Linked DNA regions of Homo sapiens: regions 1, 2, 3, 4, 5 and 6 are each linked to region 7. The links come from fine-mapping of genetic effects on gene expression. A gene starts in region 7. Each other region holds a variant in brackets. All regions are shown on one strand. Distances are between the middles of the regions. Region 1 overlaps RGS12 (regulator of G protein signaling 12). Region 2 overlaps RGS12 (regulator of G protein signaling 12). Region 3 overlaps RGS12 (regulator of G protein signaling 12). Region 4 overlaps HGFAC (HGF activator). Region 5 holds the start of DOK7 (docking protein 7). Region 6 overlaps RGS12 (regulator of G protein signaling 12). Region 7 holds the start of RGS12 (regulator of G protein signaling 12).

What was found. PIP is the estimated chance that this variant, and not a neighbour inherited with it, causes the effect.
Region 1: its variant is fine-mapped to the expression of RGS12 in whole blood (TOPMed, PIP above 0.99).
Region 2: its variant is fine-mapped to the expression of RGS12 in whole blood (INTERVAL, PIP 0.98).
Region 3: its variant is fine-mapped to the expression of RGS12 in whole blood (TOPMed, PIP above 0.99). The same link has a PIP of 0.9 or more in testis and transverse colon.
Region 4: its variant is fine-mapped to the expression of RGS12 in whole blood (INTERVAL, PIP 0.98).
Region 5: its variant is fine-mapped to the expression of RGS12 in cerebellar hemisphere (GTEx, PIP 0.94).
Region 6: its variant is fine-mapped to the expression of RGS12 in blood mononuclear cells (TOPMed, PIP above 0.99).

What each region holds. Positions count from the first base shown.
Region 1 is chr4:3,401,130-3,405,191 of GRCh38, forward strand. The region is part of intron 4 of RGS12 (regulator of G protein signaling 12); the gene reads left to right. Among named protein-coding and RNA genes, the nearest start is that of HGFAC, 39 kb to the right of the region's middle. The variant C/T (reference allele first, on the strand shown) is at 2,309.
Region 2 is chr4:3,335,806-3,339,867 of GRCh38, forward strand. All of the region lies in intron 2 of RGS12 (regulator of G protein signaling 12), which reads left to right. Among named protein-coding and RNA genes, the nearest start is that of RGS12, 45 kb to the left of the region's middle. The variant T/C (reference allele first, on the strand shown) is at 2,229.
Region 3 is chr4:3,312,251-3,316,312 of GRCh38, forward strand. RGS12 (regulator of G protein signaling 12) reads left to right here. Exons shown (of 18, transcript NM_001394154.1): 2 at 3,820-4,062. The coding sequence starts at 3,921. It also overlaps the pseudogene LOC100286945. Among named protein-coding and RNA genes, the nearest start is that of RGS12, 21 kb to the left of the region's middle. The variant C/T (reference allele first, on the strand shown) is at 2,382.
Region 4 is chr4:3,442,054-3,446,115 of GRCh38, forward strand. It overlaps HGFAC (HGF activator), which reads left to right. Exons shown (of 14, transcript NM_001528.4): 1 at 1-65; 2 at 679-859; 3 at 997-1,093; 4 at 1,288-1,367; 5 at 1,986-2,108; 6 at 2,258-2,389; 7 at 2,570-2,680; 8 at 2,766-2,940; 9 at 3,212-3,297; 10 at 3,989-4,062. Among named protein-coding and RNA genes, the nearest start is that of HGFAC, 2.1 kb to the left of the region's middle. RefSeq lists a silencer at 1,445-1,494. The variant G/T (reference allele first, on the strand shown) is at 2,311.
Region 5 is chr4:3,461,276-3,465,337 of GRCh38, forward strand. It overlaps DOK7 (docking protein 7), which reads left to right and starts at 2,031. Exons shown (of 7, transcript NM_173660.5): 1 at 2,031-2,154; 2 at 2,231-2,276. The coding sequence starts at 2,101. RefSeq lists an enhancer at 809-1,656. The variant CG/C (reference allele first, on the strand shown) is at 1,746.
Region 6 is chr4:3,386,960-3,391,021 of GRCh38, forward strand. The region is part of intron 4 of RGS12 (regulator of G protein signaling 12); the gene reads left to right. Among named protein-coding and RNA genes, the nearest start is that of HGFAC, 53 kb to the right of the region's middle. RefSeq lists enhancers at 1,001-1,270, 1,961-2,110. The variant C/A (reference allele first, on the strand shown) is at 2,214.
Region 7 is chr4:3,291,133-3,295,194 of GRCh38, forward strand. It overlaps RGS12 (regulator of G protein signaling 12), which reads left to right and starts at 1,889. Exons shown (of 18, transcript NM_001394154.1): 1 at 1,889-1,967. RefSeq lists silencers at 1,195-1,304, 1,485-1,964, 1,975-2,024, 4,048-4,062 and an enhancer at 2,678-3,263.

The DNA.
Region 1 (4,062 bases), 110 kb after region 7:
CAAAACACATGATTTCCATGGGAGCATATGTATGTTGGTAAAAATGCTTTAAAAATTCGACAGACCAACACCAAATTAATAAGATGGATTATCTTTGGGGAGGGGGTATAGGACCAGAATTTTAGGTGATAAGCCCAATAGGGATTTTAGATTTATATTTACATTTTTTCAAGGAAGAAAATATTTTATGAATTATGCATTATAATGTCAGTTTATATCCCTTTCAGCCTGTAGTCTCTCATTAGCTGTTACTTGGGACAAGCAATCCACTTAGTCAGACGATGTTATTGGATGCCTAGGATGTGCCTCGCACTGTTTGTCACAGTGTTCCTTTCATGTCAGCATAGACGCATAGTTATTATCCCAGCTTTATAGGAAAGTTAAGTAACTCGTAAGTTACTTGGTGAGGAGGGGAGTTCTCACGCTGTCCCTGTGAAGTCCGAGCACGGTTTTTACTGCGGTTTTACAGCGGGGGGAGTGTCTTGCCCAGTGAGGAAGGAGCGGAGCTCTGAGTCAGATCCAAACAGTGTGACTCTGGAACCACGCCGTGAACCGGCACACTGTGGACTAGGTAACACCAGGCTGAGGATCCACCTCCTAGAATACAGCTTGCCATAGAGCAGACATCCCGTCAGCACCTGTGAATCGTGAGAAGGAGGCGGTGGCCTCATTTACCGCATGCTCACCTTAAACTTGCCCACCCGGTTTTAGGAAGAGAATGGGCAGAATGGCTGGGTTCCCCATGGAGGAGAGCCCTGCCTTAGCCTCGTCTCTTGCTGCGTAAAAGTCCAGGGCTTTGCAGAGCCTCTCCACAGTCAGCAAGGAGAAGCAGTCTCCAGAGGTGGCCCCCTGAGCCCCAGCTCCACCCCTGGGAAGGGGCCAGACCACAGGCAGCAGGCCCTGGAGCCCGTGAGCGCTGCCTACCTCCCTGGGCCAGTGGACATGGGACCAGCATGGTGACCAGATTTTTGGAAGCCCGGTTTAGGACAAATGACTTTTTAAGTTTGATTGTTTGATATCAGAAGTTATATAAAAGGTACAAACATTGCATTATGCTTAGTTTTACATCTAACATATTATATTTATTATTAAAATTATGTGAAGTCATCACAGTCCCAGCAAATACCATTTATATGGCCACCATGGCTGAGAGCATCCACCATCTGCCCCTGATGTGTAGAGTAGGCCTTTTTTCCGTGTCTTGTGTTACCTCTTTTTGGCTTATGGGGTGGCCTCTAAATGTCACAAATCCTTTATGCTTTTACACACTCAGGCCCTTCCTCCTTCCCTGAAGCCTGGTCCTCTGGCCTCAGTCCTGCTGGGTAGGGTGCCCTTTCGTCCTCTCTATCCCTGGACTCTTTCAGTGGAAGCACAGGTCCCCAGGACTGTGTCTTCAGTTTTCTGTGTGGGTGGCCCCACCTTGGCTTGAGGGAAGGGTTTAGGACCACTTTTGAGTCTTCCTCATGAGGTCAGCATTTGGGGCCCCTGGGCTTCTGCATTGGGTGGCGTCCTCTGCGTTGGGTGGCGTCCTCTGCGTTGGGTGGTGTCCTCTGGTGGGGCCAAGCCACAACCAGAAGGTCTGAACTTCCTGTGTGGCCACTGGCACAAGAATAGAAGAAGAATGTCTTTACAAAGTATAAATATTTTATTCATCAAAATGAAGTAAGTCAGTTTCACAAAGGAATTAACCACTAAATGAGTAATGTGAAGTTTTTTCAGCTCAAGTAAGCATAATAAATGAAGTCAGTTAGGGTTGATCTTTGAAAAATGTTCTGTGTCTTTTCTTGGAGCATCCTGAGGGCTCCCTGTGGTCAGATGTGACCTCACCAACTACTTATGGTCATAGTTGGTAGCTCTAAGCCTAGAATCCTAAAAATTCAGAGTGACAAGTGACATAATTCACTCGTCTTTGCACATCGCCTAACACTTCCCACACTGACCTTCGCAGGAGCCGCTCTGCTCACTCGCATGGCCTCATGGGCTCTGGCAGCATTTCACCCCCGCCTGTTGGCATTTCACTCTCCAGAAGGACTTGGTGTCACTTCAGACGTAGAGAGTTTGTTTTGCTGGGCTCTGCCAGAATAGTTATAAATCACACGTTTCTAGTACTGACTCCAGGAAAGACCCAGAATTCAGATTTCTCCTGTTTGGGCCCACATTTCTTCTGGCCCTCTGAGGTAACGGGAAGTACACTATATCTCGAGGGGTCCGTGAGACCTGCCAGGCGTGGCAGCTCCTCTGCAGGGCTGTGAGGTCTGGCTGTGGGGGCCAGACTCACGGTCAGCCCAGAAAGTGCTGCTGGGGATAC[C/T]GGGACCTCACCATGGAGAATGTGGAGTCTGGGCCCAGCATAGTCACTGATGTCAGCCCAGGCAGGTCATGGAATGTTTTGGACCTCAGCAGCTTCATCTGTAAAATGGGCTGATTGACTGAGATCGATAGCATGTAAACACTTTTCTGAGGAGGTGCTATTCCAGATCCCTGTTTTCTAACCCTCAGCAGGCTCTGCTGTTGTGGCAGGCTTTTGTTGAGATGCAGAGCTGGGCCGGCCTCCGCAGCCTGTGCTGCTTAAAGCAGAGGGGGCCTGAGCCTACCCTACCTGTTCTTGCCCGACATGTCCTCCTTCCTCCGCAAGCCAGCCCCTCACAGGGATTCCCGTAAGATTTCTCTGGGAAGAAAGGCCTCATTGCTTTAAGTTTGAAAAGCATCTTCCAGTTGATAACTGGGGAATGAAATAGATACTCTGAGACCCAAAGGGGGCTATTGACGTGGGGTGATGTGACAAAATGTGGATACAAAATTTCACACCCCAGTATGAGGCTGGGGTGAAGCTAAGGGAGTAAGGAGGGGGCTATGGGCTGTGGCAGCCCTCCCTGCACTACCACACTTCTGTGCAGAACTTAGGTTCCAGAATTCTAAATTAAACCTGGCCTTCCAGGTTGTTGGAGGGTAGCGAGATGGCATATAGCTTATTTAACAATGTGTTAGCCTTTGTTACAATTTTCCAGCATTTAGATATATGGTGTAAGCTCCTTCGTCTACACTTGCCCCAAGCCTTGCAAAGATTAGTTCTCTTCCATGAGAAAACCAAGGCACAGACATGCTCAAGGCCATGTGATCAATCACATCATGGCAGCCAGAGACAGAAGGATTGTCCTGAGGCACAAGTCTCCACATGGGGATTTTCTGTGAAAGTGAATTTTGCCGCTGTAGTGACTGCATGGTAGGTATTCACGAGGCCTGGCTGTTTCGAAAGGGAAACAAAATCACTTTGGTGATCAAGTGCAGGCTTTAAACAGTAGGTGGTAGGATTTTAAGCTGGGCGAGTAAGTAGGTCTGTCTGTGCAGGGGTGTGGGTCAGTCGTTCTTAAGCTGCTTTCTGTTTGTGCCAGGCTTGAGCACAGGGACAAACACATCAGAGCTCATGGGAGCCAGTTCCCCACTGCCAGCAGGGAGTTACAGAGATGGAAGAGGAGGTGAGGATGTGCTCAGGGTGTTGGGTTGGCATTGGAGGCGTCAGTATGAACCGATGGCTTTCAATAGAGGGATGTGTGGATGGAGAGATAGACATAGCAGTGTGTGCGTGTGCATCCACATTTCCCAGCTCTGTCCACCAGGGTGGGGCTGGAGGCAGGGAAACCCCAGTAGCAGTGAGCACCTGCATGTCCAGATTTTGGTGTCTATACCTCTTTTCTGTAGAGGGTGTCAGGCTCTGTGGAGCAAAGACTAATTCCTGGGCTGGAGTGGGAAAAACACAGGATGAAGCTGGAGCTTCGCTTTTATTTTTTTTCACACCAGAAAATAAGGCAGTGCTTAAGGCATGATGAGGACACATGAGCAGGATACAGGTGCCAGCCTGAAGGAGGGACTGAGCTTCCAAAAAAGAAAGGTGTTCATGGGGTATGAGCCATGGACTAAAATAAAAACCCAGCAAGTCCACACTAACACAGATAAATGGCTTTGTAGTAACAGGAGGGGGGCTCTTAGAGCAGAATACAGCTGAACAGTGCGTCAGGAAATCATCAGAGGGTGCTAAAGTTGTGGACTCAGGCTTGATGCGAAGCA
Region 2 (4,062 bases), 45 kb after region 7:
TGGGCCGGGCGTGGTGGCTCATACCTGTAATCCCAGCACTTTGGGAGGCCAAGGCAGGCCGATCATTTGAGGTCAGGAGTTCGAGACCAGCCTGGCCAACATAGTGAAACCCCGTCTCTACTAAAAATACAAAAAAATTATCCGGGCATGGTGGTGCGTGCCTGTAGTCCCCGCTACTTGGGAGACTGAGGCAGGAGAATTGCTTGAATCTGGGAGGTGGAGGTTGCAGTGAGCCCAGATCGCACCACTGGACTCCAGCCTGGGTGACAGAGTGAAACGCTGTCTCAACAAACAAGCAGGCAAACAAACAAACAAACAAAACCCAAGGGCTGGAGCCCCATGTCCTGTCCCTCGGTGGTCTGGGCCCCAGCTCCACCGGCTGTTTTCCTGTGAGCTGCCAAGTTGGAGTAATTCCTTCTGCTTCCCTGCATTTTCCCAGCCCTGGGGTGGCAGCGGCTTCCCGAGGTTGCTACTCCATGGCATCTCAGAGTCCCTCTGCCTTTCCATCCCTCAATACCAAGCTACCCCTTCTCTACATAGTACTCTCTGTTAGAACTACGGGTGGTTTCTGTCTCCTGAGTGAACCCTGAAGAATATAGCAGGAGATGCGAAGATGTGAGCTAGAAATCTGACTCCTCGTAAGTCTCTATATTGCCTCTTTTTGGAAATACCTTCGGATGATCTGGTCTCTCTTTTAAGCTACATACTCTCTTGTGTACAGTCTATTTGTTCAGTAAGTATTCATTGAGTACTTGGTATGCACCAAGCACTGTGGGAGGGGTGGGGGTGTAGTCGTGACCAGGACATGGTCCTTGCCCCACTGGGGCTTAGGGACTAGTGTTTATTTAGACCGAATTGGTTAGGAATTTTTAGTTCTAGCAGTGTGGGTAACGAAAGAAAAAAATACATAAATTGCATTACATCAAATGTAAAAACTCTACACATTAAAAAACGCAACCCACAGAATGAAGGCAACCCACAGAATGGGAGAAAACATTTGCAAGCCATGTATCTGATATGCAGTTAATATGCAGAGTCTATAGAGAACTCCTATAACTCAGCAACAGGAACAAACAACCCAGTTAAAAAATGGGCAAAAGTCCAGTGTGAATTCTGTGAAGTAGAAAAGAAAATAAAGAGAAATTAAAATAAAAAAAAATGGGCAAAGATCCAGTGTGAAACTGTGAAGTAGAAAAAAAAATGAAGAAAAAGAAAAATTAAAAAATGAGCAAAGGACTTGAATAGACGTTTCTCCAAAGAAGATACACAAGTAGTCAATGGGCACGTGGAAAGATGCCCAACATCATCAATTATTAGGCCAGCGCCAACTAAACACACAGTGAGTCAGCACCTTACACTCCTTGGGATGGCTACTATAAAACAACTGCCACCACCATCACAAGAGAGAAAAATGACCCGTGTTGGGCAGGATGCGGAGGAGTTGGAGTCCTGGCGCACTGCTGGGAATGCCAAGTGCCGCACCCACCATGGGAAACAGTGTGGTGGCTCCTCAAAAAACCAACAGTACAATGACCACATGGCCCACAGTCCTACTTCTACGTATATACCCAAAGAATTGAAATCAAGGTCTTGAGGAGATGCTCTTTATACACATGTTCATAGCAGTATTATTTGCAATAGCTGAAAGGCAGAAGCCACCCAGATGTCCATCATCAGGTGACGGATAAACACAGTGTGGTCCATCCATACCGCGGAATATTATTCAGCCTTGAAGAGGAAGGCTACAACATGGATGACCCTTGAGGACACCATGCTCAGCAAAATCAGCCAGTCACAGAAGGACACACACTATCTAATTCCACTTATGTGGGATTCCTAGAGCAGTCAAATTCATAAAGACAGAAAGCGGGAGAGGGGGCCTGGGGGAGGGGAATGGAGAGTGCGTGTTAAATGGGGGCAGAGCTTCGTTCTGGGAAGATGAAAAATTCTGGAGGACGGTGGTGATGCTTGCATAACAGTACGAACACACCTAATGCTACTGAGCCAGCTAACTTGGTAAATTTTGTGTTATCTGGATTTTAAAATCAGATTGAATAAATATTTTGAAAGTTTAATAAAAAACGGCAGTGCAGTAGTACAGCAGGAGCTGGGTGTTGTCTCAGGTCAGCCATGAGCTGTGTGACCTTGCACGGACTTGCTTCCCTGACTTCCCAGTTCTCATCTGTGGATTGAGGCGTTGGAATGGTTCTTACGCCAAAATGATTCTT[T/C]GCTCCGAACTGATGGTCGCATGGGATGATTCACTGTTTTGTTTTAGACAGAGTTTTGCTCTTGTTGCTCAGGCTGGAGTGCAGTGGTGTGAACTCAGCTCACGGCAACCTCTGCCTCCCAGGTTCAAGCGATTCTCCTGCCTCAGCCTTCTGAGTAGCTGGGATTACAGGCATGTGCCACCATGCCTGGCTAATTTTGTATTTTTAGTAGAGACAGGGTTTCTCCATGTTGGTCAGGCTGGTCTCAAACTCCCAACCTCAGGTGGTCCACCCGCCTCGGCCTCCCAAAGAGTTGGGATTACAGGCGTGAGCCACTGTGCCCAGCAATTCATTGTTGGCACTGAGAGTGGCCAAGAAATTTGGTACCTGAGCAGGGGTTAAGGTTCTACCCTTCCCCTCCCCTCATTTCTAGCGGTTTTACTTTGGAGGGAACCCGATGCTTTTCTGGGCCTGTGTGTGGTAGTAATGCCGGTTGACCGGCCGTCCCTTGGGACCCTGTAGCCAGGCAGGTTGATTGGCCTGAGGCCCTTGGTTCTCCCTGAAGCCGGCTGGCTCAGGCTGGCTCACTGCATCCTGGATGCCTGGGGGCCAGGGTGACCGGCCTCTGTGGTTGGCGGGCGGGCGGTGTCTGCTCCACTCAGTGCCCTTGAGTGCTGGGTGTGGTGGCCGAAGGCTGGGAGGTGGAGATGGTGCCCTGGGGGCCACCTGTCTTCTCAGACAGTCGTGAGGAGTCTTCTCAACTTAAAAGCTGGAGTTTGAACCAAGTGGTCTTTTAGGCCATTTTTATTGTTGTTTTCCCTGTTTAGTACTCTTTGGGGAAGAGTCAAGATTATGTCACACCAGCAGGGGTGCTAAATCGGCGGTGATGATCTGAATTTATTAATTTACAAAACTTTGTCAATTTGAGAAACACGAGTAAACGCTGGTCTCTCCCTGCTGTGGAAGTTGTCACATCTGTTACTGGCCCTCGTTCCATGAGTTGATTTAGTGCTTTGCAAGAATTGTTTTCTGTCTGCTTGTTAGACTTTTCCTTTCTCCTTTACATCTCCAAAGTGCACAGTGCATCCACGTGTGGGCAGGCGTCAGACATCCTTTCTTTTGCCTGTGCTGGGAACAAGTTGCAAGGCTGACTGTGGAAGGGCCGCTCACCTGGGGCGTGGTCAGGGCTGCCAGGTGTGGTGGCTCACACCTGTAATCTCAGCACTTTGGGATGCTGAGGTAAGTGATTGCTTGAGCCCAGGAGTTTCAGCTCAGCCTGGGCAACATAGCAAGACCCAGTCTCTACAAAAAATACAAACATTAGCCGGGCCTGTTGGCACATGCCTGTGGTCCCAGCTACTCAGGAGGCTGAGGTGGGAGGATCACTTGAGCCTGGGAGGTCGCGGCTGCTGTGAGCCATGATCATACCTCTCCCTCCGGCCTGGGCGACAGAGTGAGATCCTGTCTCAAAAGAAAAAAAAAATTAAACTCTCTTATCACTGTCCATCTAAATAACAGAGAGAGGCTCTCTGAAAGAAATGATGTTTATCTGGGAGCAGGGCATTGGAGTAGGCAGATACTTGCCATGGTCTACAGTGCATAGCTGGGGAGGCCAAAGAAGACAAAGGCTTTTAAAGGAAAAATGAGGATCACATGATTGTTTTGAGATAATTATCCTTGCCACAAGGATCAGCACCAAGGATGATACCAGGCTGGAGGTGGGCGGGCGGTTGCTGGGCAGATGTCCTCACAGTGTGTTTTGAGTGAGGCTGTGATGGCCTGTGTGCATGGCTGTGATTTGCACATCTTTGTGATGGATTTGTTTTTCGCAGGCACACTAATGTGTGAGCCCTCC
Region 3 (4,062 bases), 21 kb after region 7:
TAAACTATAAGCTGAACTTATGTGATTATTTTGGGAGGCCAAGGTGGGAGGATTGCTTGAGGTCAGAAGTTTGAGACTAGTCTGGGCAACATAGTGAGACCTCGTCTACAGAAAAATTAAAACATTAGCCAAGGTTCACTGGGTGTCTTCTCCTTGGCCCCTTTGCCCACGTGGTGAACACTGTGGACCTGTGAGGGTGTGAGGGTTGCGTTCCTGCGTTCTGGACTCTTTACCCACTACTGAGAAGCAGCCGTTTGAAATATGAGTTGGCAAGGAAGATCAGCATGTAGGCTTAGACCAAGACGGTATGTGCAGCCTCCTGAGCTAACTGGGCCTGTGCTTGAGCCCAGTGATGAGCAGCCTCAGCAAGAGGAACCACCACCTGAAAGTCGGGGTCTTACCTGGCCAGGAGAGAGAGGAAGATCACGGTGCTGCTGAGATTCTTGTGCTTGACCAGGAAGCTGATCTCCGGGAGCTGTCTCAAAGACTGGGATGAATGTGGAGATGGTCCTGATGTCCGGGGAATATTCTGCCGAAATCAGAGCAATTTAAATTGCCAGAAGGAGGTGAAGGGCAACCACAGGTTCCAAGGAAGACAAGCTGAAACAATGCAAACTGGTTTTATATTAGATACGTGACTTAAAATATCTCAATACAGTTTTCTCCAAAAAAAAAAAAATAGTTAGCCGAGTATGGGGGTGTGCTTGGTATGGCTTGAGCCCAGGAGTGAGTTTGAGGCTGCACCGAGCAATGACTGTGCCACTGCACTCCAGTCTGGGCAATGGAGTGAGACCCTGTCTCTAAAAAATAAAAACAAAGAAACGTGATTATAGATAATAAGATATTACTTACATGAGTTACAAACCATTTCTTTTTAATAAGCAGAGGCCCATGACAGTAAGAGTCTAGTAGAAAAATTGGGTGGACTGCATAGAAGACATTGTCCATCATTATGTCACACAGTGTGAGGCGGATGGTGCGAATAAACTGGGAAGTCATGTCTTTCATTGAGGCAGCATCTATTCCTGTTTGGAAGAGAAAGCCGAGAGGTGTTCTGTTCCCCGAGGAAGCCATCAAGGCTTCATGACCTGCTGTCCTGGGGCTGTTCACAGTGATAGCTGGCACTTGCCGGGAACAGCAGCACCTTTGTTGTGTGACAGATGCTTTTCTGAGCGTGCTTTAGTGAGACCGTTTCACGCATGTCCTGCTTTCCCTCTCCCCTCACCCGTGACAAAGTGATTCCCCCTTGTATTTGTTTCCTGGGGTTGCTGAAAGAAATTACTGCAAACTGGGGGGCTTAAGACAACACACATTCATTCTCCTGCGTTTTCGGGGGCCTCGTGTCTGCAGTCAGTGTGACCTGGCTGATGGCAGGTGTGGCAGAGCTGGTTCCTCTGGTGACTTTAAGTCTGCTTCCTTCACCTTTCCGGCTTCTGGAGGTGACCGCCTGCCCGTCTGCCTGGGCTCGAGACCCATCCTTGAATCCCTGCAGTCTCCGCATCCTTCCTCATGTGGCCGTCCCCTCTGGCTCTGACCCCAGGCTCACACAGGCGCACCCCACACTCTCCCCATCTCTAGAGCCTTCACGTGGTCACGTGGATGGGAGGAGCCATCCAAAAGCTTGGGAGTGAGGATGTGGGTGTATCAGGGGCCATCAGCCAGCCTGTCACACCTCTTAAGAAGATCGATCCCCAGACGTGTTTCTTGGCCAACTTTTACATTTATTTATTTATTTTTTAATGATGATTTTTAATAATTTTTAATTATTAAAAAATTATAAAATAATTTTAATTATTTTATTTTTTAAATTCATTTTTTAATGATTTTAAATAGTTAAATGCCCAGTCCTAATATTTAAATTATTAATACAGTACTACTTAGATATTGAGTAATGTAATTTATATTCATTTTTTACTCTTTTCCATCAAAACATAATTTTACTAAGTACGCATGTTCTGTGTCCGTGTTTTGTCATCACTGAAGCCACTTTTGGAGTCACCTAGTAATAGCCTTTCCACTCTATCTAGTTCTGTAGCTTTTATGTGTGTAAATTACTTCAAATCTGTTTATGATCCTATTGCTGGAAACTTTATCCCAAGACACAAAAATCTTTTCTATTAGAAGTTATTAACTTTAAAACAATTATTTATTTTATTTTATTTTATTTTTTGAGACAGAGTCTCGCTTTGTCACCCAGGCTGGAGTGCAGTGGCACGATCTCGGCTCACTGCAAGCTCCACCTCCCGAGTTCATGCCATTCTCCTGCCTCAGCCTCCCGAGTAGCTGGGACTACGGGCGTCCGCCACCATGCCCAGCTAATTTTTTTTGTATTTTTGGTAGAGACAAGGTTTCACCGTGTTAGCCAGGATGGTCTTGATCTC[C/T]TGACCTCGTGGTCCACCTGCCTCGGCCTCCCAAAGCGCTGGGATTATAGGCGTGAGCCACCGCACCTGGCCTAAAACAATTATTTCTTTAAAAAAACATACCCTCTATTCTATTTTGTGTCTTCACAACACAATCACTTACTGTATTGCTTTTTAAAGTGATCTTTAAAGAGTCTTGCAGAAGAGACTACACAGCAGGCCCGAGACCATCCTGAGAGGCCTGTGTGCAAGGCTGGCCCCCCGCTGGTGTCAGGACGGTGCCCACCACCCTCAATGAAGAGGGGCTCCCTGTGCTTAGCTGCTTGTGTGGGGAACAAGGTTTGTGCTGAGAACCTTCCTTTCTTCTGGGAGTCCAGAGTCTGGGCACGAAGCAGGCAGAGGGTGCCCATGTGCCCAGCCCCCAGTAAAAACCCTGGCACCGAGTCTCTAGTGGGCTTCCCTGGTGACGACACTGCACATGCGTTGTCACGGCTCACTGTGTAGGGAGTTAAGTGCGTCCTGCGTGACCCCGCTGGGAGAGGATTCTGGAAGCTCAAGCCTGGTTTCTTTGGGACATCGCCCCATGGACCTCTGCCCTTGCTGATTTTGTGTGGAATCCTTTCGCTGTAATGAATCTCAGCTGTGAGAGCACCTTTGTGCCAAGTCCTGGGAATCCTAGGGAATCACTGGCCTGGGGGTGATCCGCGGACCACTGACAAGTTTGTTCTCAATGACAACCAATACTTTTATACCCCCTGGAAGAATTGAGTTAATATGACATTTCTGCTTTTTTAGGTGGTGGTTTTTATCTAGCCTGTTGAGTGGCCTCTGCAGTATTGATCGAGGTTGTTTCAGGCTAATACGTTTTCCCCCACACAGTATATTCAAAATAAATTAATGTGGGAGGGTCATGGAATATTAGGTGACCCCTCTCCTGAGGGAAAACTCTATGTCAGGGGATTTATGATCAACTAAGGGGTTAGACTCAGTGTTCTGCAGGTGCCTTTGAACCTGAAGCCTGTAGCAGGCCTTGCTTCTCACGCTTGGACTCTGCCATCCTGTGAAACGTGGGTTTGGGTGTGTTTCTTCTGTGTGGAGCCCGAGAGTCTGCCTTTCAGACGGGCTGCCAGTCCACGGACCACACTTTGAGTAGCAAGGGGCTCTTTCCATCCAAACAGGGTGTGGAAGCAGTGCTGGGAAGCAGTCCTGCATCCTCACACCCGTGGCAGGTGGGCCTGGCAGGAACTTGTGTGGTAACAAGGTAGCAGTTGTGGGAGACATTTTCTACTCCGAAAGGAAGTTTCTTAGCCTGACTTGAAGATTTATTATCTATAGACACTTAGAGGCTCTTTCTGTGGTGGTTTTTATTATGAATTATCTTTTTGTGTTTAGCTAATACCAGTGAGTGGTGGAGAAAGATGGGCTCTTTAATAATGAGCTGTTCGTTTTTCTTTCTTAGGGCACTGTTTGAAGAAGCAAACATGGTAGCATCAAGCATTCCTTGAAATATGGCTCCAAGGGAACAATGAGACGTGCTCTTGGTCTTGGAAGCTCATCAGAATGTTTAGAGCTGGGGAGGCCTCCAAACGCCCATTGCCTGGGCCGTCGCCCCCAAGGGTGCGGAGTGTGGAGGTTGCCCGGGGGAGGGCCGGCTACGGATTCACGCTTTCGGGACAGGCACCCTGTGTGCTCAGCTGCGTCA
Region 4 (4,062 bases), 150 kb after region 7:
CCTTCCTCCTCCTCCTCCTGCTGCTGCTGCTGCTGCCACGGGGGTTCCAGCCCCAGCCTGGCGGGGTGAGCACTGACCTTGTCGCAGTGCGACCAGAGGTTCCCAGTGGCTACTTGGGGTCCTTGGGAGGAGGCCAGAGGGAGGGTCGCCACAGAGCGTGGGGATTTGAGGGGGCGGGGGTCCGAGCAGGGGGCTTACGTTGAAAGCTGGCCCTCACAGGGCAGGTGGGTGCTGGACTGGCCTTGGAGGCTGGGGCCTGGGCTCACGGAGCCCCACCTGGGGGCTGTCATCCCTGTGCGGCCTGGCCTGGGCCCCTATGGGTCTGGGGGCTGCCCCCTCTCTCTGGACCTCTGTTGGGTCTGGATGCGTGAGGTTGGGGGAACCTCCCAGGGCCTCCTAGCTGCTCCCATCACCAAAAACTGACGTCAGGGTTTAAGCTTGGTGGGTAGCAGTGCCTGGGCCTGGGCAGTGACCCTGAGCAGGTGTTAACTAGGGGCCGAGGGCGGGGAAGGTGTCAGGGCCTGGCTGAGGCCTCAGGAATGTCGTGTGTCCTCCTGGAACCTGCTCCGAGATCTGGGGGCCCCAGTATGGAAACAGGCTCAGGGCTGTGACCTCCTGCCCGGCAGGACCTGAGTGTGAGGGTCTGTCCCACACTGACACCCTTTCTGCTCCTCCTAGAACCGTACGGAGTCCCCAGAACCTAATGCCACAGCGACCCCTGCGATCCCCACTATCCTGGTGACCTCTGTGACCTCTGAGACCCCAGCAACAAGTGCTCCAGAGGCAGAGGGACCCCAAAGTGGGGGGCTCCCGCCCCCGCCCAGGGCAGTTCCCTCGAGCAGTAGCCCCCAGGCCCAAGGTGGGTCAGGTGGGCCTGGGAGGAGGTGTCGTGCTTCACCTTAGGGCTGGGTGGGAGGAGCATGGCTGCGGCTGGAGGTCCTGAGGGGCTCGGGTGCCCCTCGAGGGAGCCCTGACCCTGCCACCCCCTCCCCACAGCACTCACCGAGGACGGGAGGCCCTGCAGGTTCCCCTTCCGCTACGGGGGCCGCATGCTGCATGCCTGCACTTCGGAGGGCAGTGCACACAGGAAGTGGTGGGTCCGGGCAGCCGGGGCACCCGAGCTGGGGTCACCTGCCCCACGCTGCCTGCTTTTCTGGGAGCCGGGCACACAGTAGGCGCTCACCACGCAGCAGGCGGACCCAGTGAACCCAGAGACCCTCCAGGGTGGTGGGGTGGGGTGGGGGGCCTCTGCCTGGGACCCCCATGCACGCAGGTGTCGCCCCCCAGGTGTGCCACAACTCACAACTACGACCGGGACAGGGCCTGGGGCTACTGTGTGGAGGCCACCCCGCCTCCAGGGGGCCCAGGTGGGTGCTGGGTTGGGTAGCCTGGGGCGGGCAGGGGGCACTGGGCCAGGCCAGAAGGGCCAAGGGGAGGATGGGGCGGACCCGGGCAGGGGTCCTGGCTGGAGGGGAGCAGAAGAGGAGCTCTGGGATTAACCCCGGTGGGTGCCACTTAGGGCCAGAGCCTCTCCCAGGTGGGACCTGCGTCTCATGGTGGCTGCGCGGCCATCGCTGGGGCCAAGGCGCCGCCTGGTGGTGAGGCCGGGCCCTGCAGCCACACAGGCGTGCCCCAGGCAGGGGACAGGTGGGCAGGGTCTGTGGGGTGCGGTGCCAGCCGCCCTGCTCACATGGGTCCTGGGACACATGGGAGGGGTCTGCTGCCTGACAGTGTGGGTGTCAGGCTTCCAGGAAGCCACGTGCACAGCTGGGCCAGTGGCCCAGGTGTTGAGTGGGGGACGCTGGGAGGAAGGGGAGGTCTGTGCCCCTCCCAGGGACCTTGCACCCCGAGGGGCGTAGAGAGGGCCCCTTTGCTCTCAGAGCCCCTCACTGGGGCCTGATGGACGCCTTAGCAAGCAGAGAATGTCACAGAGGGACCCTGAGCCTCCCAGTCCGCCCCTCACACCCCCTCCCGCATGTCCCCAGCTGCCCTGGATCCCTGTGCCTCCGGCCCCTGCCTCAATGGAGGCTCCTGCTCCAATACCCAGGACCCCCAGTCCTATCACTGCAGCTGCCCCCGGGCCTTCACCGGCAAGGACTGCGGCACAGGTGAGCTGGGCCTCGGAGGTCCGCAGGGGTCCAGGGGCCGGAGCAAGTCCCCGGAGGATGGGAGAACAGGTGGCTCCCGAGTGCAGGGCAGGGGCCCTGCACGGGGACAGCAGGTGGCAGGGTGTGAGGGCTTACTGTGCACCCCTCAGAGAAATGCTTTGATGAGACCCGCTACGAGTACCTGGAGGGGGGCGACCGCTGG[G/T]CCCGCGTGCGCCAGGGCCACGTGGAACAGTGCGAGTGCTTCGGGGGCCGGACCTGGTGCGAAGGCACCCGACATACAGGTGCGCCACGGGGTGTGAGCCGTGCCACTGACCCCTGACGGGTGTCCCTGTCCACACCCGAGTGGGAGGAATGGCCTGAGGTCACCCAGAAACAAGGGACAAGGGGTGGACCCCGGCCCCGACTCCGCTGTCGTGGGGCACTGCGCGGCCCCTGGCCCAGCTCCTCGGCCCTGCCCCCAGCTTGTCTGAGCAGCCCTTGCCTGAACGGGGGCACCTGCCACCTGATCGTGGCCACCGGGACCACCGTGTGTGCCTGCCCACCAGGCTTCGCTGGACGGCTCTGCAACATCGGTGAGTGGGTCAGCCCCCCGGGGTGCCCTGGGGCAGTGCCGGGTGGACCCACCGTGGGCCGGCCTCACTGCCCCTCTGCCCGCAGAGCCTGATGAGCGCTGCTTCTTGGGGAACGGCACTGGGTACCGTGGCGTGGCCAGCACCTCAGCCTCGGGCCTCAGCTGCCTGGCCTGGAACTCCGATCTGCTCTACCAGGAGCTGCACGTGGACTCCGTGGGCGCCGCGGCCCTGCTGGGCCTGGGCCCCCATGCCTACTGCCGGTCAGCACCACGCCGCTCCAGGCCGCCGCATGCGGGGCAGGCAGGATTTGTCCTGGGGAGAGGCCCCCCGGCTCCCTAGGACCCAGGCGGGGCCAGCTCCGTCCAGACAGGCCCCGGAACCTCTGCCTGGGAGGCTGCCCGAGGGAGGGCCACTCTCTTCCCACTGCTCCAGGTGCGGGGAACCGCCCTGCTGGGGGTTCCGATGCCCCCTCCCCATGCCCTCTTCGAGGGGCAGTGTGACTCCCTGCCAGCCCCCACTTATGCACCGCAGGAATCCGGACAATGACGAGAGGCCCTGGTGCTACGTGGTGAAGGACAGCGCGCTCTCCTGGGAGTACTGCCGCCTGGAGGCCTGCGGTGCGCGGCTGGCGGGGGGTGCTGCCTTGGGCCCCACCGAGGTCACAGCAGTTTTCCCCGTGATCCTCCTAGCCCCTCCGCACACCTGGCTACTGCATCTCTGACAAATGGGGAAACTGGAGCTCACGGGATCAGGCTGGTCCAAGGTCACGCAGTGGGTCGGTACTGGGGTCACAGTGGGGAAGCAGCCCGCTGCAGGGGGCTGGTCACCAGGCGACGGCCTCGGGGTGGCACCTGCCCAGCCTGGACCATGCCCAGGATGGCCGCAGAAGCCTTTCAGGGAGGTGCAGGGAGGGCAGCGTGCAGGCCCCCCAGAGGCCACCTGCTTCCTGCCCTGGGGAGAGGCCCCCCGGCTCCCTAGGACCCCGGCGGGGCCAGCCCGGGGCTCTCATGTGGGGGTCTCTGACTGTGCTGGGGCTGGCTGTGGGGTTCCGGGCTGCTGAGGGGGCCACAAAGGCCTCCGTGTGTCCAGCCCCTCTGGCCCTCACAGAGCCTCGGGATCGGGCATCAAACCCCATTCTACAGATTTGGAAACTGAGGGCAGAGGTGAGTGGGCGCCAGGGCCTGAGCAGCGTGGACAGGGGGTCCGGCCATGGCCCTCTGCAGCGCCTCCTGCCGGGTAGGGCCTGTGTGTGGAAGGGGGCTGGCCCTGTGAACCCCAGGGGTGTGACCCGGTGACCTTTGCTCCCAGAATCCCTCACCAGAGTCCAACTGTCACCGGATCTCCTGGCGACCCTGCCTGAGCCAGCCTCCCCGGGGCGCCAG
Region 5 (4,062 bases), 170 kb after region 7:
TCAGGATGTGGCTCTGTTTTCACTGCCTACCAGCTCTCCAGCCTTCCCCTTGGTTCTTGGAGACCTGATTTGCTTCCAATCAACCCCTTCCTACTCAGTGGCCAGCCTATTTCTCCATTTGCAACCAGCAACCCTGGCTATAACTTCTGGGGAAACTTCTGGCTATAACTTCTGAGGCACGGAGCGGGGCAGGAGCTTGCCCAGGGTCACAGCGCTCTCGGCCAGTCTGGGAGTGGCAGCCAGGCCACCTCCTCCTCCTGCAGGAAGCTTCCTCCACCTTTCAGCAGCCCTGGAGCCGCATGGAGCAGGGAAGGGAGTTGTCTACCCTCCGGCATCCTGTGTGTTCCAGGCTGTGTGGGAGCAGGTGCAGCTGCCAGGCATGGCAGGAGCCTGGGCCCGGGCCAGCACTCAGGAATGCAGCAGGGCCCTGCCTCTCCCTGTAGGGATAAGCAAGTGCCAGGCGCCCAGGGCAGCGGATGTGTCTGTGGCTACAGCCCCAACGGCCCCCGCCTCCGCACCGGCTGTCCTGGGCCAGCCCCTTGGGGGCCTGGGATGTGTGGGGAGCATGAATGGGGCTCTGTGACCCAGCAACTGTTCTGCGGAAGGCGGCTGGTGGCTGCACAGGTGACTGCGGGGGTGGGTGGGGGATGCAAAATTCTGCTTCCTGGGCCTGGTGTCCCCCGCCTTGCATGAGGCCCTGACAAGACATCACCGAAGCACCAAAGCCAACCCTTGTGGCCCACCGGAGACCTGTCTCTTGGATCACAGGGGCAGTGGGGAGGGGCGCCCAGGGCTCCCGATGCCTCTGAGCCCTGCTCTGAGGTCAGCCGATGTGGCTCAGTCCTGGCTGTGAGGCCTCACGCTGCCCTGATTCCATTTGCTCCTCAGTGCGAGGCAGACAGAGCCCAGCCTAGGGTCTGGATGGGATGAAATGAAGACGTCTCCTCCCTAACGGGACACTGTCTACCCCTTCCTTCTTCTCCCCCGAGAACCGTCAGCCCCGTGAGGATGGGGTCTAGGGTAGGGCATGTGGACGGAGCTTTGCTGTTTGTCCAGGTGCTTATCTTCTAGGGTGCCATCGCCCCTCCCCACTGCTGTTCCCGTATCTGCTGGGTGTCCCCAACCCCAGGGTGGTGGAGGCCGTCTCTCGGATGGGGCTGACACCCAAGGCACGGACCTGCCAGGTCCCCCAAAGCACATGGCCTCTCTGCAGAAGAACCTGGATGTGACATCTAATGCCCAGGCCAGAGCTTGGGGACAGCTGGACTGGAGCCACAGGGTCAAGGAGGGGGAGTCCAGAAGCGCAAAGTCCACCCAGCTGGGAGGGCTGCTGGCAGGTCCTTTACAAAGCAGGCAGCTCCTCTGCCCATCGGAGCCGGCTGGCCTAACCAGGGCCTGCTCTTGCCTGGGATGGGGGCAGAAGAGGTGGAGACCTGGGGCCCTGAGGCGGCACTGTGGGTCCTGGACCCGCCCACCTGCACTGGGGTCCCTGCAGGCTTTTAATGGGAACAGAAATGGAGGAAGAGACAGAGGCTGCCAGGGGCTCCCCGACCCCTACTGCCTGCCTGGGGAGGGGTCACCTCAGTGTGGGGGAAGCCTGGGGATGTGAGAGCATCCTAGGCCTGGGCTGCCTGTGGCCAGTCTGTTGTCCGGGTGTCTAGTGACCCCTGGGGTAGGGGCAGATGCCAGTCTGGGAAGCCGGATTGTTTGAAGACCAACTTTAAAGTTGGGAGCAGTGCCCAGAG[CG/C]GGGCCGATGTCTGCTAGGTGGTTGTCTCTGCTTTTTGAAAAAGAAGTCCCCGCCCGACCCCCGCCCCGCCAGGCGCTGGTCTGAGCGTCTGAGCCCAGATGGTGCGCTTGCTCCAGAGGGCGGGCGGCTCCAGTGGCCGCCGCGGGACGGTGGGGCCAGAGGGGCCCGTGGGGGTGGGGGAGCCGCCCGCAGGAGAAGGAGCCCCGCCCGCGCCGGCCCTGGAGTCGCCGGTGTCGCCGCCCTGCCCGCGGGCCCGCCCTCCTGGCCCAGCCCAGGGCCCTGCGAGCTATTTTGAAAGTGACCCTGGGCTGGGGCGCCGGGGCGAGCGCGGCGGCGCGGAACCATGACAGAAGATGACCGAGGCGGCGCTGGTGGAGGGCCAGGTCAAGCTGCGGGACGGCAAGAAGGTCGGGGCGCGTCGGGGGCGCGGGGGGGGGGGGCGCGGGCGCGGGCGGCGGCTCACGCTCCCCCCTGTCCCCGCAGTGGAAGAGTAGGTGGCTGGTGCTGCGGAAGCCGTCGCCCGTGGCAGGTGAGCGGGGCGGGCGGGGGACGGGGGGCGCGGGGGTAGCGACACGGGTTACCGAGGCCCGGGGCAGTAATGCCAGCTTGCCCAAAATCGCCGCCGCTGTCACCCCGCCGGGAAACCCGAGAGCCCCGTGCGGACCCGGACCCCCCGGCGCCCCTGGGAGCGCAGGTGGGGGCCCTGGACGGAAGAACCCTCTTTCCAGCAGGGCAGACTGAGGCCCGAGGGGCTGCCTGGTGGCCCTGTAGGCGGAGGGGACGCAGGCCCTGAGCCCCCCAGCAGAGCAGCAAGGGGCCCCCCAGAAGCAAAGCCCCACATACCTGAGGGTTGAGCTGTGCTTGTGGAAACGCTCAGAGCAGGGCCCCCGAACCCAGCCTCCAGGGGTGCTGCGTGGGTTAGCGCTGACCCTGGACCCCTCCCAGGCAGACGAGAGGCTGGGCTGCGGTAGGGCAGGGCAGAGTGACTGCCACATTGCTGGGGGAACAGTCCTCTGGGAGGAGGCAGGGGTCCCCCCCCAGTCCCCGCCCTGAGCCAGCACCCCAGCTTGGGGAGGGTCAGCATGGAGCCCCCAGGTCTGGCAGCCCAGGCCGCCTGCAGCGCTGGGCCTGTAGGGAGGGCTGAGCCGGGCCTGCAGCTGCTCCAGAGGACAGGTGCGGCAGAGCCGGCCAGGCCCGGGTCTGGGTGGGATGCTCGGCCTGTGTGCATGGGGGGCTGTACGCCAGGGGGCTGCCAGAGCACCCTCCAGGACGGGTGTCTGTGACTCCCAGGGAGGGTGTGGGGCAGGGATCCCTCCTGCGTCCCCTCTGCAGGGCCTCAGGTGGTCCTGGAGGAAAGCACTTCCTGCCTGCCTCCGCCTCCCCTTGCAGGGCCTGGACTGCACGCTGGTCACTTCTCCACTCAGCCCTCCGTGCCCAGACCTCCTGCCTGGAGCTGTGGGGGCACCGACAGAGCCTGGGAGGGCGTCTTTGTCCTCCGGGGCTGCAGGGGACCTGGTATAGGAAGGGATGGGGTCTGGGCAGAGTGAGAGGCCCTGCCAGGCTGGGGCGGATGACAGGCTTTAGTCAGCTGTGGCTGGGTCGGGGCCGTGGTGGGGCAGGTGATGCTTGGTGGATGGTGCTGGGCTGGAGCCGGTGCAGACCCTCCAGAGAGGCCGCATCCCAGGAAGGCACCCGGGACAGCAGCCCCCAAAGAGGAGTGTCGGGGGAGAAGTCTTTGTCCCTGTTGGAGGGATTTTCTTTCTGCATCAGACAGTCCCAGGAGGCAGGGCCTGCCAGCCTCAAGAGGGTGTGCTCCCCCGGCCGGTGAGTGCCTGAGTGGAGTGACAGGAGTTTGCAATGGGTCCCCCAGGTGGGACAATCTGTGAGTCTGTAGGTGAACATGGTGGCTCCCGAGCGTCTGCTGGGTTATCCCGTATCCTGCGCAGTTGAGATCTGCAGCCTTCTGGGGCTGGCGTGGGAGGTGATGTGGGGTAGTAGAAGGTGCCATGCCCCCTCTGGGTGGATGTTCATTCCAAGCCTTGAGGCCAGGTGTCCCTAGCACCCACTGACTCACTGGCCTGGGACCCATTGCTTTGGACACCTGCTTTCTGTGTTGGTCACTCCAGCAGCCCAGGGTTGAAACTGACACCCTGTGGGGTTGCCCAGAGGTCGGTCAGATGAGGGGATGGGACAGAGCGGAGTTCTCACGCCCACCTCCCCACCCTGACCAGGCCAGCCTGGCACCTCCTCTCCGCTCAGAGGCCCTGATGCCTCTTCCCCTGGCCCCTCATAAGCCTCCCTAGATGCTGCCCCCT
Region 6 (4,062 bases), 96 kb after region 7:
GATTGAAAAGGAAGTAGGCAGGAATGTCTTATTTCACTGAAGATTTCTCTGATGTCATCCTTATCATTTTGGTTCAATGATTTAAAAAAACCTCTCCAAAGTAAGGAGAGTTCCTCCGAAATATTCCTCTTTTCTTCTAACACTCCTGACAGTCCGCAGGCTCTCGGGTTTCATCGTCACCTCACGCTTTTGTCCCCACTTCTGTCCCTGAGAGCTGGAATAGGTGCACCTGGCATCGCTGTGGGCCAGGGATGGGCTGAGGCACAGGCTGTGCTGCAGAAGCTGCCCAGGGGCCGGTGGGTTTGAGGTGCCACTGTATTTGTGCGTTAAAGAGAAACCAAATGTCGTTCTCTCACTTTCTGTGGTCCTGCAGCTGCTGGCCTCAGTCCTCGGCCTCGGAAAGGGCTGCTGTCCCCAGGTAGGCAGACAGAGCTCAGAGCCCTCGCAGGCCAGCCACTCTGTAGGAAGGCCAGGAGGACCCCAGGTGGGCAGACAGAGCTCAGAGCCCTTGTGGGCCAGCGGCTCTGTAGGAGGAGGAGCATATCTTGGGTTACACACGCACTGGCACCTGAAGCCGAGACCAGAGGGATCCCGACACTCGTGTGGTGGAGATGTATTTTGTAGAATAAAAGGAATTCTATTTCCTATTTTATGTACAATGAAAATCATGTCATTTAATCAGTCTTAAGGTGGAGGGAGGATAAACTTCCTTAATGAAAAGAAACAGGACCCGGAACCAAATCCAGGATAAAGTGACCGGTGTTTTGAATGATCTGTTCATGCTTTCTCTTTCTGCCGTGTTCTCACTTCTCCTTTCTGGCAGAAGACATTCATTTCTTGCAGGCAATTTATACATGAAAGATTTGCCTAATATGTTTAGTTTCACCATATATAATAAGTTTTATTTGCCTCCAAAAGATTGCTTCTGTCAGCAATAGATGCAGGAACCCAGAGTTGTGTTATGTGTCCATTTTACAGTTGTTTAAAAACCTGCACCTCCCAAGGGTGGGAAGTCTCTAGCTCCTCGCCGTGCTGGCTCTGTGTGTCCCTCTGAGGAAGTGTGTCCTGGCTCCTCGCCACGCTGGCTCTGTGTGTCCCTCTGAGGAAGTGTATCCTGGCCACGCAGAGATCCCCTGGTGCTAGGGCTTTCCACCCCCTGCTCCTCCTTCTTTTCCCAGTGTCAGACCCTGGGGCCACTGGGACAGGCCCGTCCCTCCATGGAGAGCCCCAGTCACAGAGGAGGAGACGGGAGGGAGGAGGAGACGGGAGGGAGGAGGAGACGGGAGGGAGGAGGAGACGGGAGGGAGGAGACAGTCATCAGCACACCCTGAATTTCAGGAACCGCAGTGGGCGGGCTGGATGTTTATTTAGTTCCTTTTTGTGTTTTTGTTATTTTTCCATCTTCAGTTTCTTTGCTTATAAGAGTAAAAAGAGCCAGTTATCTTGTTTAATGTGCACATGAGCTCTAGATCGGTGTCACATTCTGCCGTTGTTAGATGTAGGGCACCGAGGCAGAGTGGGGAGATCCAGCAGCTCACAGTAGTCTGCAGGTGAGATGGCCAGACTCAGGCCTGCAGGGGAAAGCCCTGGCTGAGAGGCCCCTCCACCCTGGCTCCCACCCACCCCCCAGCCCTGGGCCTCCACACGCCCAGCCCCATGGTCCTGGAGAGTCCCCCGCTCCAGCCCTGGACCCTCCAGCGCCTGCAGCCCCTGCTGCCCCTTCTGGTGCCTCAGGCAGAAAGAGGCCCCCTCCCCCACACCCTGCCCTCCACGGCAGTGACAGGAGCCTGGGCGGGGTCGGGGTGGGGGGGTGGTCCCAGGGAAACTCTGGCTGTGTTTCCACACAGAGATCTTTTTATAGGCTGTGGTCAGTGGGAGACTCAGTGCACTGAGGTGGGCCTGGGAACTCCAGCACCCCAGTGTTTTTATGGGAAAAATGCTCCCCGAGTTCCAAGGAGGGACTGAGGAGTTGGCTTGGGGAGCAATCTGCTCAGCTGGGCTGTCTCTGCCTGGTCATCCTGTCTAGTTTTGGTGATTAATAGATCACTCACTTAGAAATATTTTGTGTTCAACGAGCCGTGCCAGTGAGAGAGTTCGTGTTCATGCCACGGTTTCATTCTGTGACGCGTATCGTGCTTTTATAGCTTAGGCTCTCGCTGGAGAGTTTTAGTTTTGTGGCTCGGTTTTAAGGAAGTTGGACTATGCTATTTTGG[C/A]AATCTTTGTCAAGTTGGAGTGTGTTTTTTCACTTTTTCAGAAGAAAGGGGCTGATAATGGCCACCCGTTTGTAGCCAAAGAGTGCCCTCGGGAAAAAGGGTTACAGCTGGTCTCTGGGGGGCACGGCAGGGCTGTGGGTGGGGGCAGGGAGCAGATTCCAGCTGGAGAGAAGGAAGCACATTCTAGCATTATAGAGAGGCTTAGCAGGGGAATGGTCTGCCTTGTGGGAAGTTATTCAGACAGAAGTGTGAGGTCGAGCTGGAGGGAGATGGGGCGTTGTGAAGAAATGAGAAAAGGAAGATGCCCGGTTGCTCCTGGAAAAAGGAACCTCTCACCTCTCCTGGTCTGGCTCTGCACAGAGCTGGAGCCGCGGCCGCACAGAAGCCCGTTCTTGTGGCTTCCTCCGTTGGTCAAGCTCTGTGCCAAGAGGCCTGCCAGAATCCCCTCACCCACTGCAGCCTCCACAGGTGGATGTTCCCGCTGTGACCACCTCACCTTCTGAAGTCGGGGTGTGGAGACTATCGGGGAGCTCCCAGAGCGCCCACCTCCTCCTGCGTACGGCGTCTGTGCCAGCAGGAAAGCCGGGGAACTGTGCGGCTCTGGCTTTGGGGGACGGTGGCAGGTCCACATGACACCCCACATACATGACCCCGGTGCTCCAGCTGCTTCTCAAACACTCCGTTCTCGCAGCCTCACCCTGGGGACCCCCGACACGTACTAGTCGCAGTCCTCCATCCCCATGTCCTCCTCATGCCTTGTGCCTCAGCTCTGCCCTGACCCCACTCTGTCCACTCAGCTGCCCCCCTACTCGTCCTCCATGCAGACCTCAGTCTTGGCCCTGTCTCTGCAGCCATCCTCCCGCTCCCTTCTCCTGAACGCTGGTGGTTGCCCCCACAGCAGCAGCAGTGATCTGCCCAGCCCCTGCACTGGACCCCTCCACCAGCTCAGAGCCCCTGTTCCCCCAACCATCCTGCGTCCCACCCTGGTCTCCAATGGTGCCTCAGGCACATGCGGTTTCCCTCTTCCCTTCCTGACCACCTGCCCCCATCCTGAGCGATGGCCACTGTCAATTTCCTGCCCGTGCTAGGGGCAGCTTCCATCATTTTAATTATTCATCTGTGTTGGTGCTTTTGTCCCCCCAGCTGGTGTGACCTCCACGTGGCAGGTCAGAGTTGTCCCGGCACCCGGCACAGCGGCTGGCACGAGAGCTGTCTGTTGAGTGAATGATCGGGTGTTCAGCAGACATCAGCCAGAGCGTCAGGGCGAGGCTTGGGCGGGGACAGTGGCTTTCAGTGATTTTCCTTTTAGTCGTGAAACCTTCTCAAAAAGCACACACAAGCACAGAAGCAGAAACTCCTGTGTGACTGGTGTTGCGGGGTGGACCCACTGCCGCCGCCTCCTCCTGGGCTGCTCTGCGCGCCTGCCAGGCTCTTCCAGTGCCTTCACCCAACACGCGGGCCTTTGGAGCTCAGACCTGGCCATGGCGGAAGATTCGGGCTCCACCTGCAGCTCCACAGCTGACAGGCCGATCTCTTGGGGCAAGTCACTTTCTCTCTCCTAGCCTTGTGTCTTCATCTCGCCGGTCCTTGTTAGCGAACAGGCACTGAGGCCTGGGGAGCTGTCACAAACGGCTGCCTGATGGGGGAGGGTTACCGTAATTGCCGGATTAACTTGGGGGACTTTAAACTGCATTCCTCTTTAAAATATAAAGTATAATTGTTGATATTTTTGGCAAATGCCAAAATTTGTATTCTATACAATTTTGAAAGAGAAAGGGAAAAGCTTGAGAGTAGAACCATCAGTACTTACATAGAATTAGTTGATAAATTTACATTTTCCTCATCAGAA
Region 7 (4,062 bases):
GCCAAAGGGAAAGAAGAGACCTGCAGGTGGTGTTTCCCCATCTCTCACTCAGGGCCACTTGTCCCTGCCCTGGAGCCTCAGGAGGCTGAGCTCTGCGGCCTGCTTCCTTCTGGCTTGGCGCTGCTCTGGAAGATTCCACCATCTGCGCATAGGCAGGAGCCAAGAAGGTCCACAGTTTTGGGGGGGCCAGGGTGGGGGCAGTTTCTTTCCTGGCTCTTTTTTTTTTTTTTTTGAGATGGAGTTTCACTCTGTCACCTAGGCTGGAGTGCAGTGGCACAATCTCGGCTCACAGCAACCTCCGCCTCCGGGGCTCAAGTGATTCTCCTGACTCTGCCTCCCAACTAGCTTCGACTATAGGCGCGTGCCACCACGCTTGGCTAATTTTTTGTATTTTAGTAGAGATGGGGTTTTGCCATCTTGCCCAGGGTGGTCTCGAACTCCTGAGCTCCGGCGATCTGTCCGCCTCAGCCTCTCAAAGTGCTGGGATTACTGGCACGAGTCACCGCGCCTGGCCTCTTCCCTGGCTCTCTCTGCTGGGTCATCAAGGGCTGGCTGTGTCCCTTGGCCATAGGTCGCAGCTCCTGTTAAGTATCTCTCTCTCTTTGTCTGGCTTCCTGTAACCGCTCTGGCCGCGCTCCTTCAGCCCTGCAGGTGAAAACAGTTCCCTCCCTGCTGTTACCTGTCCCAATTCAGCACCGCCCTGTGGCTTCCCGGCTCCCGGACCGCGCCTCTGCCAGCGGGAACCCTGCTGGACTCTTAATTAATTGTCCCACTGAGAATGCCATTGGTTTCCTCCTGGGATCCAAACTAATCACACAAGACTAGATGATGGAGAGCTGCCAAGAAACCATGGGGCGGTGGCGGGGACGGAGGGGAAGCGTTTTGAGCCCATCAAGGCAGGTGACAGGAAAGAAGCAAACCCGAGAGGGGCCGAGTCCCTGGGCGGGCGGCAGGGCTGGAGCGTGAACAGCAGCGACGGATGCGTCTCGAGGGAAAAACGCGGCGGGAGAGAATGAGGGGAAGGCAGGAAGGAAGGGGCAGGGAGACCCAGCGCCGGGGAAGGAAGACACGAAGAGGGCGAGGAAGGAACTCCGGCCTAAAGGGTGAAGGCGGCGGCTGGGACAGGGCCAGAGGCGCAGGCCGGGGCCGGGCAGCTCCTCCTCTCGTGCCAGCGGTGCCTCCGGTCCCGCCCTCGCTGCTGCCCGCGCTCCGGGAGGGGCAGACCCGCTGGACGCCGCAGTCACCGCGCCGCCTTCGCGGGCGTCCCGGGGCCCGGAGGGAACGGCCTTTCCTGGCTGTCCCCGTGGCTTCGCCGCGGGAACTCACGCCGCCCCCGAAGCTGCCGCCAGCTCCGGGCATCTGCCCAGCCGAAAAGCCAGGGCGCCGGGGCCTGACTCCCCACAGCCAGGTTTCCCGGGCACAGAGACCCAACGGGAGCGGGACTTCCTCGGACACCGACGGCGAAGGACAGAGACAGCCCAGGCAGGGGCGGCTCCTCCCGGCCACACCGACCTGCCCTTCGCAGGGTGTCCCGGGCCAGCGGAGGCAGAGAAAACCAGCTTGCGGGAACGCAGTCGCTCCCAGCACCAGGGCCGGGCCAGTGCGGGTACACACCGTGCGCACCAGCGCCGCCGCGCCCCCAACGGAAGTCCCGCCCCCGGCCGTGGAGGCCCCGTCCCTCGCTTCTTCTCATCCCTGCTTCCCTGGCAGTCCCGTTACCACGCTGTCCCGACGCGAAGGCCCTCGCCCCGCCCCGTGCCCCGCCCCCGCATCGCCCCGCCCCAACCCCACCCCCTTGGCCCCGCCTCACCAGGTTCGCCCCGCCCCTCTCCGTCCCCGCCCCTCCTCCGGCCTCGGCCCCGCCCTCGCCTCGACCCCGGGGGGCGGTGGCTGCCGAGGCGACCGTTGCGCGCGCGGGCGGTGGCGCGGGCCGAAGCGCCCGGAGCGGGAGCGAGCGGCGCGGCCCGGTAGGTGTGCGGGGCCGGGGCCGGGGCGGGGGCAGGGCGCGCCGCCTCCGCTCTTTCTTTCGTCTCCGGGGCGCGCGCCCGCGCCCTCCGCCTCCCGGCCGATCCCGGCCAGCCCTGCGCGGCGCCCGTCCCCTCGGGGTCGCCGCCCGCCCGCCCTGCCTTTTGTTCGCCGGCCTGACTCAGGCTCCTGGTCCCGGGCCCGGCGCGGGGCGGGGCGGGGCGGGGGCGGGGGCGGGCGGCGCGGGGCGCGGGCCTGTGGGGCCTCCGGCCGGGCGGGTGCGCGGCCTCCTGGGGCCCCGCGCTGTGAGGCCCGCCCGGGCCCTTGGCGGGACCCGCGGGGGCGGCGCCGGGCAGGGGGTCCCGCGGGCGAGATGCGCCCGGGAGCGCTGGGAGGGTTCCCTCGTCGGACTCCACGAGCGGCCGCTTTGTTAGGGCAGAAGCTGCCTTCCGAGACCCGAACTCCAGACGCACTGCAGCGACCTGGGGTCGCCTCAGCCGCGGTGCCGCGATTGTGCAGTGTAGACAGAGGGGTCCCAGAGCCGTGCGGTGTAGACAGAGAGGGGCCCAAAGCTGTGGAATGGGGACAGAGAGGGGACCCAGAGCTGTGGAGTGTAGACAGAAAGGGCGCCCAGAGCCATGGAGTATAAACAGTGGAGTGTAGACAGAGAGGGGGCCCAGAGCTGTGGAGTGTGGACAGAGAGGGGGCCCAGAGCCGTGGAGTGTAGACCGAGAGGGGGCCCAGAGCCGTGGAGTGTAGACAGAGAGAGGGCCCAGAGCCATCTAGTGTAGACAGAGAGGGGACCCATAGCTGTGGAGTGTAGACAGAGTCTCATAGCCGTGCAGACAGAGAAGGGGCCCAGAGCCATGGAGTGTAGACAGTGGAGGGTGAACACAGAGGGGGCCCAGAGCCGTGGAGTGTGGACAGAGAGGACCACCTGGCCTCTCACCTGCTTGGTCACTTGCTGGGAATGTGTCCCTGGGCAGGTGACCACCTTCTCTGTGCCTGAGTTTCCTCATTGGACCTGTCTTTGGAGCTGCTGCAAGGGCTAAGAGTGTCTTTGTCTGAAGTCCTCAGCGTGGTCCATGCCGTCCTGTGCAGGGCCCTTCTGAGGCCACAGGGACGTGCAGGATGGCCGGCAAGGCCTGCACAGAAGGGGCGCTGGGGGGCCTTCCCAGGCAAGGCAGCAGCCCCACCATTCACAGCAAGGAGACTACCAAGGAGGGCAGAGAGGCGGCTTTGGGCAGCAAGGGCTGCTGGGGTGGAGTCCTGCTGGCCTTCCCCTAGAGAAGGCGACGTGGGGAGGGCAGAGCAATTCTGAGTAAGGGAGAACCAGTTTATATTTCACTTTAGAAAGTAATTGTCACAGTGCGAAGTTTCTTCCCCTGAAAAAGCGATATAAAAAGGTCCATCGTGGCCAGTGCTTTTGGGGACTTGAGATGATGGGTATCCGGTGCCCGGGCCCTGCGTGGTGCCTCAGCTGGATGCTCTGCAGGTGGGGGAGGCCATGTTGGCTGAGGGCAGGGGCTCAGGCAAGGGCAGTGGGGTGGCTGAGCCTGCACAAGTTGGTGCACCCCTGTCTGGGTCTTTTTCTTAAAACTGCAAGTCCAGCCTTATCTCTGAGACCTCCTGAGGCTGGAACCTGCCATCAGACAGGCTTACAGTTCTAGCCCTGGTAACTGCAATGATGCGGATGCCTCTGTGACTGGCAGAGCAGAGGGAGGAGCGACAGGGCAGTGGTGACCGGAGGTCTCAGGGAGGTTGACAAAGACAAGGGCGGAGGAAAGGCCCCTCACGTGGACTGGAGGTACAGTACTGACCTGTGGAGTGCTCAGGAGAGGGCAGGGGTGGCGCGGCCTGAGGGCATGTCCTGGGGAGGGTCAGGAGGTGGGAGGGAGGCACTCGACAGGCACTGCAAAGAGGAGGGAATCCAGGGTCAAGGGCTGGCTCCCTTTCTGCCCTGTTTAGGATGAGGGTCTCGGGGAAGAAGGGGTGGCCAGGCCGAGGAGACCTGTGGCGCTGGGAGCTGGGACTCAGTGAGGTCCTGGAGGTGGTGAGGGCCCAGAGGTGACAGCTGGTGACCCAGCCGGCCTGGCT